Regions from separate parts of the Homo sapiens genome. Here region 1 is linked to region 2. The links come from fine-mapping of genetic effects on gene expression. A gene starts in region 2. The other region holds a variant in brackets. All regions are shown on one strand. Distances are between the middles of the regions.

Region 1 (5,223 bases), 71 kb after region 2:
TAATAATAACAACAACAATAATAGTTTACTCATTTAGTAAGGCAACTTTCTGGGCCCTGGAGACCTAGCAGTGAACCAGAGGTAAAGCTCTTTTGCCCATGGAGTATATTCTATTATTTTTATTAGTTATTAATAACAATATTAAAATAGAACTTGGGAAGTTCATGACATAGTAGATACTCATAGTCAAAAATTATTTATTGTTAATGGGAAGGAGCTTCATAGAGGGCCTGTCATGTATGTAATAGGAACTGAGCAAAGAGCGACTTTTATGATTTCATGGGCCCCGGGGCTTGGCTTCAGCAGGGGACTCTGTGGACTAAGCGCATCTGGGGACAGTGACCAGGGCAGTTGGGACCGGAGGTGATGTCGTGTGACCTGTGTGAACTCTCTCGGAAGAGAGGGTGGAACACGCAGTTCAGAGAAGCAAGGACCAGTGGAAGCATGAAAGCTTCAAGTGTGTGTGGCCGTCTGAGAAAGGCAAAAGACAGTTCTAGGAGGAACGGGGGAAGTTACAGAAAGTCTTTTCTCCTGGCAAAGGAAAGATTGTTTTCAGCAACCGTAGCTTCTAGAAACAGATGTGTGAGCAAAAGCTGGATTGTGAAGGTTTCTGTGGCAGACGAGGGCCAGGGTCAGATAAGGGCTCTGAGCACCCCTGGGGGATTCGACCGAGCCCCGCAGCGGCGCAGCAGAGGAGAGGGAGGCAGGGCAGAAGTGGCGGGGGTGGGGGACAGTCCTTTCAAACACTGCAGCTCTGTTTTTCTCTCTGTGTCCCATACGAGGATTCTGCATTTGATTTCAGTGGAGCTAAAGGCTCTGAGGTCAAAGTACGCTTGGGGAACCCACTCGCCGAGAAGACCTCTAAGGTTTTTCCTTAGGGTCTGTGATTCTGAAGAGCTCACTCTCAGCCTGAAATTTCTCTTGTCTCCTCCCACAGATAGGATTAGTCCTAGGCCTGATCCACTTATAATATTCTCTCTTTAAATCAATTTTCTATCGTTAATGGTCTCCTGGTAATTTGGGTTTTTTTTTCCCTGAGCAGCATTGGGTATGAAACTTTAGTTTAGTCTTCTTGAAAGTCTAAGTTAATTATAGCTACTGGTTTTCCCTTTGCCCTTGGCTGAATGACCCTTTTCAAGTCATGAACCTCTTTGAGCCTCAATTTCTTTCTTTCTTTCTTTTTTTTTGAGACCGAGTCTCACTCTATTGCCCAGGCTGGAGTGCAGTGGTGTGATCTCGGCTTACTGCAACCTCTGCCTCCTGGGTTCAAGCGATTCTCATGCCTCAGCTTCCCGAGTCGCTGGGATTACAGGCGTGAGCTACTGCGCTCGGCTAATGTTTATATCTTTAGTAGAGATGGGGTTTCACCATGTTGGCCAGGCTGGTCTTGAACTTCTGACCTCAGGTGATCCGCCCACCTAGGCCTCCCAAAGTGCTGGGATTACAGGCATGAGCCACCACACCCGGCTGAGCCTCAATTTCTTCATCTGTAGAATGAGGATTACAATGTCTCAGAGAGTTGTATTAGACTGAAGGGAGATTTTGGATGTGAAAGTGCTTCTCAAAGCACAACATGGGGCCCTTGTTGCATTTGGATAGAGATGTGATACTGCCGCTGTAGCTATTATTCTCTTTAAGACCACCAGTGACTCCTACGTGTCCGGACAGGTTCTCCCAGCAGCCTGGCAAGACCCTCCTCTCTGGAGACTGGAGATGTGATCGTGAGTGATGTCAGGGTGGAGATGGGATGAAGGTGAGGGGGCTGACCTTGGCTCTATGTTTAGCCCCTTCTTGTGGACATCAGTGAGTGAGTGAGTGTCAGGCTTTGTCTGGAGTGTGGGAAAGCAGTCTCCCCTGCTCCTGTTCCATCTATGGAGTGCACAAAACTGAAGGCCTAGATTTTACATATTCTCTGAATCTTCCATGGTATCTTGCCAGTACCTAGCACATAGTAGATGCTCAGGGAACACATGCTGAATGAATGAATGAATGAATGCATACAGATTTAGAGGAAGAAACTGAGACAGCAGGATATGCTGAAAGCATTGGTTGGCTCAACCGCACCAGCGGGCGACGCCCAGCCAGACTGATGTGCAGGACATTTTGTGACAGGAGACGCGACTGCCACCCCTGGACAGGTGCGCACGCCTGGACAGGGGCCATCATGTCTCTCACCCTCTTCCTCAAGTGTTCCTTTCATCTGCTACCCTTCGAGAGTTTCTGGTTGCACGTGGATTATGCGAGGAAGCTGGAGGGTGCTCTGGGGGCCACGGGCAGGGGAGGACTGTTGCGGTTTTCCATCTTGTTTACACATTTCTCAGCTGCCGACGTGCTGGTTAGTCAGAGTGGCAGGCTGGGAGGTGGC[G/A]TTAGACGTGTCACAGGGGGATTGCCACATTGGCTCTGCCCCACTCTTCCCCTTCCCTATCACCAGGGTTTCCGGGCAGGCTCAGACCTGTGCCTCCCTCATGCCCATCCCCCTCTGGGATAAAAACACTTTAGTAACCCCTCAGATAGATCTGGTATGTTTTCCAATTGGACTTCGGGTGAGCCTTGTTTTCAGTGTCAGATAAATCAGAAATTGGTTATAGGGGATTCTGTCTTTGATTATTTACCTGTCATCCATCAATCCACTCATTCATTCATTCACATTTACTAAGTGCCTAGTCCATGCCATGGATGCCATGCCCTGTGCTAGGTTTGCGGCTAAAAGCAGAAAAGACACAGACCCTGTCCTCAAGAAGCTCCCATTCTGGTGGCAACAGGTTTAAAAGAAAATGTGGTAGATGATTGCACTTTAGGTTTGGAGGAGTTCACTGTCCCAGGGAATCCTTGCTTGGGAACTTGAAGCGTTTTACTGAGGCTGATGTTTTCACCTGAGCAGGAAGGAAGACTGAGGGCAGAAGAGGCACCTGGGAAGTCTGAGGCCGTGGAGATTTTCAGGCCTGAAAGCATTTGTCTCCTGCTGCCCTGGGGCGTTTCTGGGGCTTTGGGAAGCTTGTCGGCAGTTCCCCAGCTCTGTTTTGGGTCTGTTTTTCTCATCTCTCCCTCTACCCATGACCCCCTTGAGCTGGTCTCTCCTCATTTCTTACATTCAGCTCCTCAGATCTCTTGGGCTTTGGCATGGGTCTGGGCTAGGGAGGTGGCTGCTGGGTTCTCAGCTGCACTGAGGGAAGACTGAGAGGAGGAGAGAGGCCTGGGGTCACGCAGGAGCCCTGACATCTGAACCCCTTCTCCAGGGAAGCACCCAGGCACAGAGCTTGACCCCCAGGGTCAGGCTGGAAGCGCCCTGGGAGATGGACAGGGCCTGGGGATGCAGCTTCCACCTCGGCAGGTGCAGCTCCCATGACCTGGAGTGCCGGAGTCTTTGCTCCAGCCACAGCGAGAGCCTGTTGTCCCTATACTACCACTCTTTCTTGCTGTTCACACATGCAGTCCCCTGTGTCTGGAGCTCCTTCCTGCTTTCCCTGCCTGGAGAGAGCCTGCCCATCCTTCAGAGTCCAATGCAAATAGTTTCTCTTCCAGGACAATTTCCCGACTTCCCTAGAGAGAATCTATTGCTTTTTCAGCTCCAGGGGTACCTTGTAACCACTGCTGGTGTTATACTTGTCACACTCTGTGTTGAGCACCTGCAGGGTGAAACCTAGGTATTGGGTCCTCCCAATCCCCAGCCCCATTTAGAGGCTGGCCAATGAAAGGGGCTGATTAAATGGTGTCTGGCTGGAGCTTCTTTTGGTGGGGGGGGAGTGGTTACAGTGACACCAGGCCCTGTCACCCAGGTGGCAAAGGATCCAGGAGAGCAGGCAAAGCAAGCAGCCCCTCCTTGCCTGTCTTGCCCTTTAGGACCTTCCCACTGCCCAGCTCAGTTTACCACCTCAGAGCCTAGGATGGCACTGCCAGGGCCGAGTGGGCTTCTGGATTCTGTGCCCCAGTCAGGGTGGACCCTGCAGTGCTCCCAGCACCCCGCTGCCCGCAGGCTGGCTCCTGACTGCCACGTTTCTGAGCCCAGCCAAGCCCAGCCAAGCCCCTTGACTCTGTACCAGGCTGGCACGGAAAACAGGAGGTGGGAGGGAGGACCAGCTTCCTCCAGAGCAGCCGGAAGCGTCAGGGGGTTGACCTCAGGTGTTAACACCCACGTCTGGTGGCTCAGGGTGCGTTTAGGTCTCCGGAACAGTAATGAGTCAAGGCCAGGATAACCAGTCCCAGGGTCCCTGACTTCCCTCCAGGCCTCAGCTATGGAGTAGTTAGCATGGGACACATTTCCTTCGGGGACAGGGCTTGGGCTCTGACCTCTGCCTGGGCCTGAGTCCCTGCTCCAGCTCTCCCTAGGAATACCCAGCTTAATGGGTTCTTGGGAGAGCTGTCATTAAGACGCAGCAGCTCAAAGGACCCTGACTGTCACAGAAAGGGGCCTGTGGGGATGGAAGGAGGTAGGGAATGGAAGGGAAGGGAAGGGAGGGCTGAGCCTGGGTGTGGAGATCCCATCCTCCCCTCAGGGCTGGGAGCTATGGCTGTCAAGGGTTATTAAGCACAGGCTTAATGACAGGGTTATTCAGCACAGGCAGTATAATGGCTAGCTCCGGGGCTAGAAACTTCCTTGACCACACCGTGGAGATTGGCCATGCTGCTGCCTTGCCTTTGGGGCCCCAGGCCTGACCTGACCCCTCCACCAGTGTTCCCACCTGCCCTCCCCCGCTCCTCCAGCAATGCCCAGCTCCTTCCCTGGTGGCAAAGGGTCTGTGTTGGGTGTACTACCCAGCTGTCATTTCCTAGCACAGACTCCTCTTTAGTCCTAAGTCCTTACATCTGTGCGGGGCTTCATGGTTTCCAGAACCTACTCACATGTATTAGCTGTGTAATCTCTGCGAACCCGGTGCATGTGCGTGGGGCTGTTGTGGGTCATATCGTTTCCGTGGGCAGGGGAGAAGGTGAGTCTCGGGAAGATGAATGCCTCAAGACAGCACAGCTAATCAGGGAGCTGGCCTCAGCCTTCTGATTCTGCAGTTAGTGACCTGCCCTAGAAATGATTCCCTTCTCTGTTGCTCCCCCAAGAGACACCCCAGGTCTCCTCAGTGCCTGCCACCCAGAAGCAGCTCACAGCTAGGTAGACTCCACAGCTGCTCTCCTCTCCTGGGAGCCCCAGGGGATACAGCGTCTCTGCACACAGGCCAAACTTTGGGGCGCCTCCTTGGATGGGAAAGCAGGAAGCTTGTGCTTTGATCCTGG
Region 2 (5,223 bases):
TGGCCCTGCGGATCTAGTGCAAGGACCTCCTGGGGAAGGACAGGGTAAGCCTGCGGACCTGGAGACAGATGGGGAGGCTTAGCCTCAGGGCCCACAGACCTCTTTAAGTTCAAATGTACTGAGTGTTTATCCTGTGCCTAGCTGTCTGCTGAGCACTTTTACATGCAATAATATCTCATTCCCTCTTTACAGCTAGGTCCACTTTTGATGTTGCAAGTCCTGGAGCAAAGGTACAAATGGAAATTATACATATGTCTAAATATTAATCAGGATAACAAAGTGTTAAGATTGATGTTTTATCCTCTGCCTTTAATTACTTTTCCTTCATGATAACCTGGAAAACCATGTCCAAAATGAAATTTTCAGGCCATTCTCTGGTACACACTCTTCTCTGGTCCTGTAGTGAGAGGGGCTCTTGTGCATGCCTAGGGTGTGTGTCAAGTTACATGCACTCCCCATCACCTGCATACAGCTGTCCCTTGCCCACTGCTCTAGCCCTTGAGTGCACACCTGATATGGCCAGCCCTTGAAAGGACAGATCTGGGGAATAGGGAATTCCAGAGTTCCTGATACCTGGAGTACAGTCTAGAAGGGGAGGAGGTGCATGCCCCCACCTGCCCTGCCCCCTTGGTCCCATGGACTCATTCTCCAGTGAGGGGCATGGCCAGAGGAGGGCCAGAATGAGGGCCTTTAAAACCAGAAATCAGGGCTGAGGCTTCTGTTGCCCAGGTCCAGGGGTAACATCGCTCTTAATAAGCCTAGGAGGCAAATATCATTGCATTCACCATTTTATAGGTGAGGAGCAGAGGCTCCCCCAGAAGACCATGTAACTTGCTCAAAGCCATACAGTCATAAATGGTGGCGCTGCCAGAGCCTCTGTGCCACTATAGGGAAGGCAGCGACCCTCTCTCCTGAAAAAGCAAACAGACATTCAGCACTTTGCCTGCAACCTCAAGGGGTCCGTGATCACGCCGAAGTCCACCCAGAGACCCCTCGTTAAGAAGGCGGTGCGTTGGTGTGCCTGCAGCAGAAGTCAGACCATGAAGTGGGAGCGGGCTTCCCAGTCCGGACCAGTCCTAGACAGTAAAGAGGGCCTGTGATGCAGGGAGGGTCTTGGATGGTTGGAAAGGTGCTGAGGAGGAGATCGACTCATTTACAGAACCACCAGCCCAAGTAGCACCGCTCAGGTGAAACTCTTTCACTTGGGCCTGTCTGGGAAAAGGCTTACTCGTTCACAGCCTCGCCTCAGCCCTCTGACCTGGTTGTCACCCTGGACTCCTCCACCCCTACCCCAAAAGGGAGGCCGAGGGAGTCTGCCGTTCCGAAGAAAACAGGAGAGTTGGAGGAGGGCGAAAAGGCAGCATCTGAGGGGGACGGCCTAGGTAGGAAAAATGAGAAGCAGGGGTGCAGCGGGAGGGTGAAATGGGGCGCAGGACACAGACCAGGCGCGGACCAACCTGCTCCCTAACCTGGAGCGTGGTGATTTCCAAGGGGTCCATGGAGAAATGTGGGGCGGGGTGGCGTGGGGGTGGGGGAAGGGAGGGCCGGGGCAGTTTGCAATGGGAAAGCTCTGTTCCGGGCTTCCTAAAACAACCGCCGGAGTTGCTGAGCGATGGGGCAGAAGGTGGCGGGAGCGGGTCCCGAGGCTGCACGCGCGCCATGTCGCACGCCACCGAGGAGGCGCAAGCTGCAGTGGGCAAGCCCGCACACGCCCACCCGTTGCGGCAGCGTCCGCTGCGGACTTTAAAGCGGTCCCTTGGCGGTCCTGGGAGAGGGAGCCGCTAACCTTCCCGTGTTCCCCCAAGCAAAGCAAAACAGTCTTCCAGCAACCGAAAAGCTCCACCTCTACTCCCCCCGAACTATGCTCCTAATTGGCAGCTCAGCGCATGGGATGATGCGGGTGGCTGCAGGCCGGCCCTGCAGTGCCAGCCGCAGCAGCCCAGCCCCACTGGAGAGGGAGTTGGGGGCACGGCGTGGTCCCGGGGCTCCGGGACCGCGAGGCGGGGTGCGGCAGGCAGGGTGCGCAGCGGGCGGGGGCTCCCCGGCCTACGCGGCGGCCACCGCCCCTCCTGCGGCTGGAGCGCTTCCAGAGCAGAGGCGCAGCCTCGCTCGCCGCTGCGCTCGCTCCGTCTTCCTCCCGCTCCTGCTCCGGCTCCTCCTACTCCTTCCCTCCCGCCGTTGCTCCAGCAGCCGGCTCCCAGCAGCGGGCGAGCGCGCCTCCCCCTCCGCTCCCTCCCTCCCCCTCCTCTCGCTCTCTGCCCGCTAACTTTCCCGAGCCCCGACCGGCGGCGCAGAGCTCCGGGGTAGCTTTGTGGCCGAACGCCGACCTCGGGCGGAGAGCGCGGCTGTGCCCAGTATCCCATCCCCGCGACCCCCGCGCGCTCCGGAGAGAACAGGACTATGCCCGGGGCTGGGGACGGAGGCAAAGCCCCGGCGAGATGGCTGGGCACTGGGCTTTTGGGTAAGGCAGCCCCAGCTTGGTCTCTTCTCTTGCCTCCCCCCACCCCCAAAGAAGGGGACACTCGAGAAGGAAGATGCCTTGGATGGGGTGGGCTTTGGAGTGCGGCACGGAATGAGGATGGTGGCCGCCGGCTTCCTGCCTGGTTCCTGCCTGGTTCATAGGCTGTGCTCCCTGGGGACCGTGTGCGTCCCTCTCTACCCCATCAGCCCGCCAGTCTCAGGATTAGTTTTTTTGCTGTCCTTGGCACCTTCGGCTCCAGGTATTTGGAGCTGGATCTTGGGGCTGCAGCGCGGGTCTCCAGAGTTCAGAGGTTCAGGATGCTGGAGGAGGGGGGTCCGTGCCTTGAGTGCAGGGGATACCAGGTGGGTTGCACGTGTGACTGTTGGAATGGTGGTTTCCATCCCGGCCCAGAGCCGTTTGCTTGTTTCCCAGGCACCAGGCATGCACCAGTTGGGGGTGGGGGAGTCCCCTTCTTCCTGGGCCCTTTTCCTGCTTTGCTCCTCTGCCCTGTACCTCCCTCAGGAGCCACTGCCTTCCCTACAGCAGCACCTGAAAGCTGGAAGGGGCTGGAGGGGCTTGCGGGATCATTCAAGGCCCTTTAGGAACGGCCTTGTCTCTCTTCCTACAAAGAGATTCCGTAGGGAAGACCTGTTTGACCTGCTCCTGGCTCTTCATTTTTGAAGTGAATATGGAGACAGAGAAGACATGTCCAGAGGACACGGAGGAAGAAGCATTATTAATATCTATTAATATGCACATGAGAGTTTTGAGTGTCAAACTCCAAGAGATTAGGGAATGATATTTATTCATCCAGGATGTAATCTCCTCATAAATCATAGCCAGACTTTAATGTAAGCCGACTCCATCTCTGGCAACGGCATCTCTTCCTGTTTATATTGGTCAGATTTGGCTTTTGGCAGCTCCCTGCATTGGGTAAGACACACGGTGTAGGTATTTCTGCTGAAAACAGGGAGACAGAACCCTATAAGGGAAGTGGCTACTGTTTCTGCGAATGTAAACTGTGTGCAGATCTAGCAGGTTGGTGCCTGGTGGTGAAGAGGGGAGAGAGTATTTCTTGTACTTGGGATGTTTATTTACCTCTGTACCGCTAGATGGAAGACACCCTTGTTTTCTCCTGTACCTTGGCACAGATGTCATGCTGGTTTCACAGTGACCTTAATGAAGTGGGCCTTAGTGACGCCTGAGGCTCCTTTTCACAGGGTGGGCACAGCGCCATTCCATGCTACTTCCCCTCATCCCATCTCAGATCAGCCCAGGTCCCCATGGTGGCAATGGCAGGGGTAAAGGATCACTGAGGAATTCAAACTCAGCCAGTCATTAAACTACCCCACTTCACACCTCTGGCTTACCTTCCTGGGTGGTGGGATGCCAGTCCCTTGTTTGTTAGAATACTCATAGAACCAGGCCTCTGTGGGCAACCAAGAGGGCCCTGAAAATGATGTGTGTGTGTGTGTGTGTGTGTGTGTGTGCACGTGTGTAAGGGGGATTGTAGGCACAGTCTTGGTACATTGCTCCAGGTGGAAGCCCCACCTTCTCCAAGGACTGTTCAGCTGTATAGACCAGGTAGGGGCTAAGGCCTATTGATATAGGTTTAGATGAATTTCTGAGCTACCCTTTGGGAGCCCAGGAGAAAGCAGAGTGACTTGTAGGTGGGAGACCTGCAGGCCCCAGGACTGGCCTCATCTGCTCTGTCCCCTGCCCCTCTGGTCTGCAGAGGGACTCCAACCAAAGTCCCTTTGGCCCTTGACCAGGTAATACTGACTGAGCCCTCACAGGGGCATTGGTCTGAGCTTGGGACATAGATGACATCCTTGCTTCTCAGTCCAGTGGGGGAGATACAGAGACGACTGGACAGCCAACTGGAGGTGTTCCCTGGGAACATCAGAGTTGGCAGCAACTCTGGGAAGCAGAGCACAGAACTCTCCTAGGGATGAGGAAGTCATGGTCCAGAGAGGGATGGTGACTTGTCTAGGGGCTCATGGCCAATTGATGGCCAAGTGGGACAGAATCTAAGTTTCTTGGGCTCTGTCACACCACGCTGCTTCCCACTTAACTCAAGTCTGGTGAGGGGGAAGGTAAATAGTGATTGTGCTTAGGGCTGAAGAATAAGTGAGGCTCTGGGGCATGAGTGTGGAAGGATAAAGACTTGAGGGGCCTAGAGCGGCTCTTTTCACAGCTTCGGAGACTGGGTACAGAGCAGTGAACTCCCAGGAGTCCTCTTCCCCTCTCCCCGTATCAAACCCAGTCTCACAGACTGAGACCAAAGTGATTTTTGATAACCTAACAAAATACCCTTTTCTTAAACTGAGAAGCAGTTTCCAAGGCTATATTATTGCCATTGAGGTTTATGTGCTTTCCAATCTCTTCCTAAGCATGTAACTGGTAATATCTCTGTCCTGCCCACTCCTTCCTTGTTCCCCCATTTACTTAATTGCTGTGATCTGTGTTTAATTATCACTTGTGAGGGTGCTCTATTGCACAACCCTGTTTCCCCTGGTGTGTATTTATTAAGGGCTTGTTTAATGAGAATGCAATTAAGGAGAGGGTGCTCAGTCCCACTCAGAGGAAGAAAAAGGAAAGAAGAAGCAAGGAGACTGTGGAGAAGAGAGGAAAGGGGAGAAGTGGAGGGAGTTTGAATCTGGAATCCTGGGTTTGAATCTGGAAAACATGCTTAGTTCTCCTTCTGAACCTGCTGGAGGTGCAAGCCTGTGGGGGCACCTGAGAGAGAAGGCTGGAGTTCC

Direction of the effects. Alleles are on the strand shown, and positions count from the first base shown. SD is a standard deviation of normalised expression in the study named.
As copies of A replace G in region 1, the expression in monocytes of the gene that starts at base 2,251 in region 2 goes down (large effect, 0.82 SD a copy in Schmiedel 2018).

What was found. PIP is the estimated chance that this variant, and not a neighbour inherited with it, causes the effect. A credible set is the group of variants that fine-mapping cannot tell apart.
Region 1: its variant is the best candidate, but not a certain one, in a credible set for the expression of SCN4B in monocytes (Schmiedel 2018, PIP 0.77).

The regions. Positions count from the first base shown.
Region 1 is chr11:118,078,525-118,083,747 of GRCh38, reverse strand. All of the region lies in intron 1 of SMIM35 (small integral membrane protein 35), which reads left to right. The region is part of intron 1 of TMPRSS4 (transmembrane serine protease 4); the gene reads right to left. Among named protein-coding and RNA genes, the nearest start is that of TMPRSS4, 4.1 kb to the right of the region's middle. RefSeq lists a silencer at 260-554. The variant G/A (reference allele first, on the strand shown) is at 2,366.
Region 2 is chr11:118,149,851-118,155,073 of GRCh38, reverse strand. It overlaps SCN4B (sodium voltage-gated channel beta subunit 4), which reads left to right and starts at 2,251. Exons shown (of 5, transcript NM_174934.4): 1 at 2,251-2,461. The coding sequence starts at 2,401. RefSeq lists an enhancer at 1,133-1,633.